Linked DNA regions of Homo sapiens. The protein of the gene in region 1 purifies or fractionates together with the protein of each later gene. This does not show direct contact. Each region holds a gene or a part of one and is shown in the gene's direction. Other genes may lie near its edges.

The links.
Region 2: the proteins of ZNF286A (region 1) and ADPRH purify together in Homo sapiens (affinity purification with mass spectrometry; one large-scale study listed by BioGRID and IntAct). This does not show direct contact.

What each region holds. Positions count from the first base shown.
Region 1 is NC_000017.11:15,698,274-15,702,593, forward strand, and holds the start of ZNF286A (zinc finger protein 286A), read left to right. Parts: upstream 1-1,478; 5' UTR 1,479-1,497; coding exon of another isoform or gene 1,498-1,504; intron 1,505-1,774; exon of another isoform or gene 1,775-1,861; 5' UTR 1,862-1,934; coding exon of another isoform or gene 1,935-2,056; coding exon 2,057-2,093; intron 2,094-2,878; coding exon 2,879-2,967; intron 2,968-4,320. UniProt on the Homo sapiens protein: May be involved in transcriptional regulation.
Region 2 is NC_000003.12:119,577,780-119,582,362, forward strand, and holds the start of ADPRH (ADP-ribosylarginine hydrolase), read left to right. Parts: upstream 1-1,712; 5' UTR 1,713-2,072; exon of another isoform or gene 2,073-2,771; 5' UTR 2,772-2,857; intron 2,858-4,354; 5' UTR 4,355-4,390; coding exon 4,391-4,583.

The sequences.
Region 1 (4,320 bases):
GAGCACAGCTTAAGTGAGTCCTTTGCAGCCAGCTATCAAGATGTCAGGCAAGACAGGGTTCTCATGGGAAGACTCTACAAACAATGATTCACTTCCAAGCACACAGAGCTGTCCAAAGGGTTCAGCTCCTTGCAGGTTGTGGGACCAAGGGCCTTCGGTTCTTGCAGGCTATTGGCTGGAGGCCATCCTCAGTTCCTTGTCATATGGGCCTCCCCAACATCACCACCACTTCATCAAAGCCAGCAAGAGAGGAGTCTCCTAGCAAGACACACGTTAGACTTTTATGTCACCTTTATTGCACTGTATTGGTTAGAAGCAAGTCCCAGTCCATACACAAGAGGGGATTGCACAAAGGTGTAACTACCAGGTGGCTGAGATAATGGGAGTTACAAATCCCTTCTGGGAGCTGGAAATCATCTTTCCTTGAAGTTTCTAAAAGCCACTGAACGGTTTGAAGCACTAAAGTAATAGCATATTCTTGTTTTAGAAAGAGCACTAGCCAGAAAGTGTGGAGAACAGATTGGTGGTAGAGAAAACCTTAGTTAGGGAATCCAGTTACCAGGCTGCAACGGCAATCCTAGTGAAATGGTGGTGGCCCCAACTAAGGTAATGCTACTGAGAATAGAGAAAGATGGAAACAATTGAGTTATTTAAGATACAATGAATAGGACTTGGTGATAAATAGATGGTGAGATCAAAGAGTTAAGAATATTCAGGCTCTGGTTTGTGCAAATGAGTGAGTGGGCAGTAATGTCATTCACTGAGAAAAGGAGGGCAGTCTAGACACGAAGCTGGAGGTGGATGGGTTAGTCCTCTAACAGAATTGGAGAGACTGAATAACTCTCCCTTGAAAGAACCACCTTTTATGATATGTTTAAACTAATGCTTATGTCTGCAAAGAACCTATTGCTTAAATTTGTTACAACAGGTTCAATCTTTTCAACTCATTTTAAATACATGAATTTTAGGATTACAAGTAGTCTGTGGATACAGGAACATCTGACTGAGTGTACAAAGAGGGACCTGCTCTTCCTAAAAACATCCTTCGTATGTTTTGAAAGCAAAAGGATGAGTTCTGGGCGCACAAAATATGGATAAAAGCTATGTATTTTAACGTATCTTACACCGGAGTAATTTGGGTTGAACTCAGCAGCCCTAAGCACTGTGCCGCAGGAACTTGTGCAGACAAAGCGCGGGGACGGACCCTGACTCCGGTCCGCGTCTCCGCTGCTCCCTCCCTCCCTTGCTCTGAGGATTAGACACAGGAGATGCTGCCTCATACTCTCGCGAGACGGACGGAGCTCTTCGATCGTCCGATTCTCCCAGCCGCACCACGGGTGCTCCCACCTGCGGAGAACCGGAGTCTGGCGATGCCAAGGCGCTTCTGGGAATTGTAGTTCCGGGCGGGATGAGGGCAGCACGCCTGGCTCCGCTCCTTCTTACGCATGCGCGACTCCGAGCTGGCCAAAGAAGTTCGTCCCCTTTGTGAGGCCCGGGATGGGAGGTGAGTTGCTTGTGGTGATGTCGCTCGTCTCGGCTCGGCCTCGGCGGTGGTTCCCCGGGTCGTTCTGTGCCGAGTCGGGGCTAGAGTGCGCGTTTGTTAAAGGGGCCTCGAGGGCAGACCATGAGCCCTGTCCCTTCTCACTCTGGCCTGATCCTCTCCTCGGGGGACGCGGTTGTGCCACGGGCGGGGTGGTCGCGGGGTTCTGGGCCAGTGCCCCGAGCGCGGCAGAATTTGTCCAAACTCCTGATGCCCCAGCGTCACCTCTTCCAGGTGCCCGGTTCCCCCAGGGACAGCTTCAAGCGGTAGGGACAGACATCTGAGGACCCAGCCTCAGGGATGCTGTCCCCGGGCTTCCAGGCTCCAGCGCCGTAGGACTGAGGCAGACTCCACGGTGAGAAAGAGACCCGATCTAACCCAGGCCTTTCATCAGAGCCCAGGAGGGAAGGCAGGAAGTGGGACCACGAGGCCCGGGGGGCTTCTAACTCGTCTGGCCAGGGAGATCTGAATTGGGGTGAAGAGCAGAATCTCCAGAACAAGGAGGAGGTGGTGATCATGGAGACAGATTTGGCTGAAATGCCTGAGAAAGGAGGTGAGAATTGCGGACGTGTTGAACTTGTAGCGTGGAAGGACGAAATTCCTGCTCCTGAAGGGAAAACGGTTGGCTCAGGGGAGGTGGCTCTTGGCTGGCTGTCTCCATTGTCTTGGGGATGGATGGGCTTTTTAAGTGAGACTGAAGGGCTTGGTATGGGAGCACCGCCCTTTCCATGGCAGCTGGGCACACAGTGGACCCTTCAAAGCTACCCCCAAAATGTGAGTGAAATGTTAACTTCTATGGCAAGAATTCACCTCTTTGGTTGTCAAAAATGTTTTGTTTTACATAGGAGAAAACAGGCGTAGTAGTTAATGACTGACTTCCATTCTACCTGACCAGTTTCATGAAGGTTGTGCTGTGACCTCCTACACCAGAATTCCCCCTGGGGTGGTTGTTAGATTTCTGGATTGTACCCCAGGCTCAACTAATGCTTATTACTTTGAGGTGGGGTCCAGCAATCTACATTATAAATAAGCTTTCAGAGTGAGAACCAACGAGTATAGATTAAACTGGGAAATTTACTGACATATTCTAATTTCTAGATCAGAGGATGCCATCTTACAGAATGTGTTATGATTATAGCAACTGAATTCGAGCCCAGAGTAGCAATATTCCCGCATATCCCGGGAAGAGGGTCCTGGGAGGAGGTCGGTTGTTTTGGGGGTACCTTCAGTCTCAGTGTTTGTAGGCAGCACATATAGTATGTTGAAGTGGTTTTTAGACTTTAAATCTGAGTGGCACGTTAAGCCTAGGTCTCATCATTACTGCTTTCTTGTCGTTAGCTCTGTCTTCCCAGGATTCTCCCCATTTCCAAGAGAAGAGCACAGAAGAGGGAGAAGTGGCTGCTCTGCGCCTCACGGCCAGATCCCAGGTGAGTGAGTGCTGATTATTGGAATTACACCTTGTTTCTTAGAGTACAGATGCACTCCCTTCTTTGTGATGTGGAGTTTCTTTATCCACTAAAGCCCATCTGCAGAGCTGAGTTCTAAATCTAAGAGACTAGTCAGGAGACTAATGGACTCAGAAGAAAATGTTTTCTACTTATAACACTGGATGGATTTCTTCCCTATTTAGTGTTTATTGTCCCTCAACAGATAGGTAAGCAGCATTTCCCTTTCTTAGCCTCCTATGCTCATTTCTGTGCTTGGTAATGTGAGAAACTATTTTAAATATAATGTGGTACATACCTCTTAAAACTTGTTTCTCTAGAGGAAACAGCATGTATGTGACCTTAAGTGGCAATCTAAGAAAGCACTTAAATGCTGAAGTGATTGTAAAAATAATAAATACTCACATAGTTCAAAGAAATACTGGAAAAGGAAAGCCTATGAAGGCGTAATTTAAAGAGTTACAGTTAGAATCCAGCCCTCTGAGATGATGAAAGCTAAGGTATGATCATGTCTGCAACTTACTTTTATATTGTTGGCCCCTCTCTCCCAAAAGGTAAATATGACAAATATTACGAATGTTTGGCTGGGCGTGGTGGCTCATGCCTGTAATTCCAGCACTTTGGGAGGCCAAGGCAGGTAGATGACTAGGTGAGGAGATTGAGACCATCCTTGCTAACACGGTGAAACCCCGTCTCTACTAAAAACACAAAAAATTAGCCAGGCATGGTGGCACGCACCTGTAGTCCCAGCTAGTCTGGAGGCTGGGGCAGGAGAATCACTTGAACCTAGGAGGTGGAGGTTGCAGTAATCCGAGATCGCACCACTGCATTCCAGCCTGGGCAATGAGGGAAACTCTGTCTCAAAAAAAAAAAAAAAGAATTTTTGAATTTAGGCGGTGATTGTACTATATCAGTGATTATTGCATTCATCTTTCAACTTTTGTATGTTTGAAACTTTTATTAAAAGAAGTTAGGGCTGGGCACGGTGGCTCATGCCTGTAATCCCAGCACTTTGAGAGGCTGAGGCGGGCAGATCACCTGAGGTCAGGAGTTCAAGACCAGCCTGACCAACATGGTGAAACCTCGTCTTTACTTAAAATACAAAAATTAGCTGGGCTTGGTGGTGCGCACTTGTAATCCCAGCTACTCCGGAGACTGAGGCATGAGAATCACTTGAACCCAGGAGGCAGAGGTTGCAGTGAGCCCAGATAGGGCTACTGCACTCCAGCCTGGGTGAGAGTGAAACTGTCTCAAAAAAAAAAAAAAAAAGAAGTTGAGGAGGAAAAAAGGAGCTTTCCATGATGTGTGTGGCATACCACAACCCAGAGATTCCTC
Region 2 (4,583 bases), on another chromosome or scaffold:
AAGGGTAAAACTGAGGGCTGACCTGATTAGGCCTGACACTTAATTTGCCTTGCTTGCTTTTGGTCACTTGCTTCTAGTCGATTTTAAAACCTGCATAGCTAAAAGTCATGTAGCTAGACGATACATAACTAAATTCCACTTGCCTCCTTATAGATAACTTCTCTGATAGGACACCATGGAAAATATTGCTTAAGTTATTTTTCAGGAACTTAGAGTCAGTTCTTGTCCAGTTCAAGCCACCAGCCCTTCATCTTGGCCTGCGTGAGTGTCCAATGGGTGACCTTTTGACATCAGAAGGCCCAAAACTCCACTCTCAGATCATGCTAACGTCACGATTTTGTGAACATGTGTTCTATGAACAGCCATGAAGATTGACTATGCTTGCTCAGATTACCGATTGCCTCACTTTTCCTTACCTCATCTTTCTCTGAACCTTGGACCACCTTCCTCCCCTATCCCATAAGCACTCCTAAAATTCCATCTTTGGAAAGGCACATTTGAGGCCTGTTCTCCAGTCTCCTGTCTTGGCTGCCTTGTGAATACACCCTTTCTCTACTGCAAAACTTGTGCGCCTCAGTGATTGGCATACTGTGTGAAAGACAAATGAGCCTGGTTCCCTGACAGGAGCTGAGCTGTCTCTTCCTGCATGCAGCCAGCAATAAAGATTCCTCTAGGAGAGGTATGTTCTCCACGCCAGAGCGAGAAAATAGCTCTCATCACCAGAGATTTGGAACTGGAGGTGGCATTTGGACTGGAGTAAACATTCTTGCAAAGTAACCATTATCTTCCACCTGTTTTACACCCCACCCCCCATATATCTCCTAGGGGCTCCCCTAGAAATTTTTTACCACCCTAGCCGGATTTTCTTTGTCCTGTCACTTCTTCTTAAATTTATCACTCTTTTTCTAAAAAGTATAAAAGCATCTTGCTTTGGACACTTTCTTCAGGATTCAGTCTCTTAACATCCCCATGTACATGTAAAATTAATAAAATTTGTATACTTTTCTCTTGTTAATCTGCCTAGTGTCAATTTGGCTTCTAGATGCAGCTGATTAGCTCACTAAGAGCTAGAGGGTGTAGGGGGTTGGAGGTGATCTCTGCCTCCCTTATTGGTGAACTTGATTTTTGTAAACACTCAAAAGTCACTTAGGCTAGAGTTGGAGATGGAGATGGTTATTCACTGGGAAGGCCACAAGAGAATGTTTTAAAGTGATGGAAATATTTCATATCTCGATTATGGTGTAAGGACATTTCATTATATATAAATTATATATCAATTTTTTAAAAAGCTCTCAGACCAAGGCTAGTCATTACAGCAAGAAAATAGGCATAGCAAATTTAAAACTTTGGAGAAATATATAGAATATTTGCATATGGTGATTCTGATTTGCTTTAAAAGTGACATGATTAATGTATTTAGACAAAAATACTCTTCGTTTTTCTTTGCTTTTATTTACGATCAGGATACAAGAATTCTACGCTGCTGCCAAATAAATGACTAGTTAAAATTAACTAACTGAATCCTTAACAACCATTCTAAGAGGCAGATATTATTATCCCACTTTATGCGTGAGGGCCCAGAACCCTGGCAAGGGCGGCACACTCAGTACGCTCTTCAAGCATCTGGGCACACCCGGTCCACTACAGTCCTACAAAGTCGGACGTGAGCACGGGCGAAGGCGTCAGCCGGGGCCACACGGGAGTCACTGACCACAGCCAGGCGAGAGCCGGCTTTCCGGTGCCGCCACATTCCGGGCACCAGGCTCCGGGCTCTTCAGAGCATTTGGGGCGGGCGACGGAGGTCCCGTCCACTCTCGCTTGGGTGCAGAAGGGCGCGGCGGTGCCAGGAAGCCGCCTTGGAGGCTCCAAGATTAGCTCACTCAGCGCGGCCAAGCGCAGGTGCGGGGGCCCTCGCCGCCACCCTGCTTATCTGGGGACAGTCCCGGAACCCGGTGACCCGGCTCCGCCCCAACCCGCGCCCTCGTCCACCCGCAGCAGCCAAGGCCTCTTCCCCGGCCCCGGGAGCCCGCGCCACGCCCGTCGCTCGCGCGTTCCAGTCCAGGCTACAGCAGGTATCGCGATCCCGGCCCTCGGCCCCGCGCTCCCCTCCCCCGCCCCTGGCGCTCTCCGAGTGTGGCCGACCATGAGGATTCCCAGTCTTGCAAATCGTGGGAGCGTGTCAACCGCCCCGTTTCTTTCCAAAGCCGGGCATGGCCCGGAAGCAGCTGATCAGATCTTAGTTCTGAATGTATAGTTCGGGTACGAGAATGTGACCCGTGAAAGTTCAGAGGAGTTAAGTAATTACAGCGTTCTGAAAGCGAACGTTAAAGGGAATTTACAACCGAAAAAAGATGCCGGTCTTCTTCCCCCATCCCAGCTTGCAATTCACAGAAGCACACATTAGGGTGGAGCCAGAAGGAATTACGGAAAGGACAATGAGGACATTGAGAGGGAGGGTATGGGGGGTTAAAGTTAGTCCTCCGAGGCCAAGAAGCAGAGTGTCTTGGCCTAGTGTCTGAAAATCGCAGCGCAGGACGGAACTTCCGAGAGCCTATACCTCCCCACTTCCCCCTCCAGTTTACAGATGGGCAAACCGCTGTCCCGGGTGTCTGTCAGGTCTAGTAGCCCAGAATCTCAGTGCCTAGGCTTCACTGTAAATAATAAACTATGTAAATAACATTTACAAATATCCTTTGTGAGCTCAGAAACTCAGCATTACCAGTAACTGGGTAGTGGAACGCATCCATCTTCGTCGTTTACTCCTTCTCCAGGGGCTCTCCAGCCTGCATTCCATGGCCAACAGCAGTGCAGCTGCAGAAGCACTTCTGGAAGCCTCCTGACTTGAACTAGACCTTGGGTAAATAGGGTTTAGATAAGTGGAGGGGAGGGAAAAGTTTCACCTGAGGGGAGAATGAGCTAGTCTGCCAGACCCTTATAAAAGTATTGGCCTGGATGGGATGGAGGGCTTTGACCTGAAAGCCACAGGGAGAAGGGAACCCTGAGGAATTGGCTGAAAGAGGGGGGTTCTTAGGAAATGCACCAACAGGGAAGCCAGCGCTTTACCAGGGATTTCATTCATGGTGGGTATATTATTAATAGAGATTCGAATTCTCTAGAAGCTGATCATTTCTAAGAGAAACAATATTTAAACATTACTGTCGAAGGAAAGGTTGTGGGGAGAAAATGTTCTAGTTCTAAAACAGAACACCCATTTTCCCTGGTTGTATATGAATAATACAAATATGTCAAAAATCAAGCTTACTATGTGCCAAGCACTCTAAGAACTTTTTTTTTTTTTTTTTTTTTGAGACAGAGTCTTGGTCTGTCGCCCAGGCTGGAGTGCAGTGGCACAATCTCGGCTCACTGCAACCTCTGCCTCCTGGGTTCAAGCGATTCTCCTGCCTCAGCCTCCTGAGTAGCTGGGACTACAGGCATGCACCACCATACCCGGCTAATTTTTGTATTTTTAGTAGAGATGGGGTTTCACCCTGTTGGCCAGGCTGGTCTCGATCTCCTGACCTCAGATGAGCCACCCACCTCGGCCTCCCAAAGTGCTGAGATTACAGGCGTGAGCCACCGCGTCCAGCCAACTTTATGAAATTTAATTTATTTATTCCTAACAACAAATCCAGGAGGTTGTTACTTTTTAAAATCAGTGCCATTTTATAAATGTGGAGGCTGAGGCACCAAGAGGTTGCCCAAGGTAAGAAGATCTGGACTGAGGCTGAGTGGTGTGATACCAAGCATCCTGGCTTGGCTGGAATCAGATTTGGGTTCCAGTACTTCCACTCCTCTTGTTTTGTGAATTTAGCTTATCTGAGCCTTCATTTTCTTATCTGTGAAATGCATACTGTAATCCCTCCCTATTAGTGAGACAATGAATGTGCAGGTGCTTTGTGAACTACACATTGTGACACTAATAGGAAGTGTAAAGCCTTGCACTTCTAAGGCCAAATCCCAGCTAAGAAGAGCAAATGATGAGCTGGGTTTGACTTGCAGAATTTAGTGGGCTTACTACTCACCAAGAGGCAAGAGATACAGTTGTAGTTATGATGATAGACTTTGGAGTCAGATGGACCTATGTTGGGATCCCAGCCCTGCCACTTATTGGCTCTGTGACCTGAGACAAGTCACTGAACATTTCTCAAACTGCATTATCTCCATGGTCCTCCATTTGTTCATACATAAAATGGGCTTTATATTCCTCATAGAGCAGTGATGAGGATTACATGAGATGCCACTGATACAATGTCTGCAAGTAGTGAGTGCTCAATAAAACATAGCTAGAGTCGTTGTTTTTTCTGATTCTTCTTGCTCCTCATCCTATTTCCTTTGTCTTAATTTCCCCACAAAGACACCCTCTCCAGAGCCCAGCAATTGTGAGGGACTGATGGAGAAGTATGTGGCTGCTATGGTGCTGAGTGCAGCTGGAGATGCCCTGGGGTACTACAATGGGAAGTGGGAGTTCCTCCAGGATGGGGAGAAGATACACCGGCAGTTGGCCCAGCTGGGCGGCTTGGATGCCCTAGACGTGGGAAGGTGGAGAGTTAGTGACGACACAGTGATGCACTTGGCCACAGCAG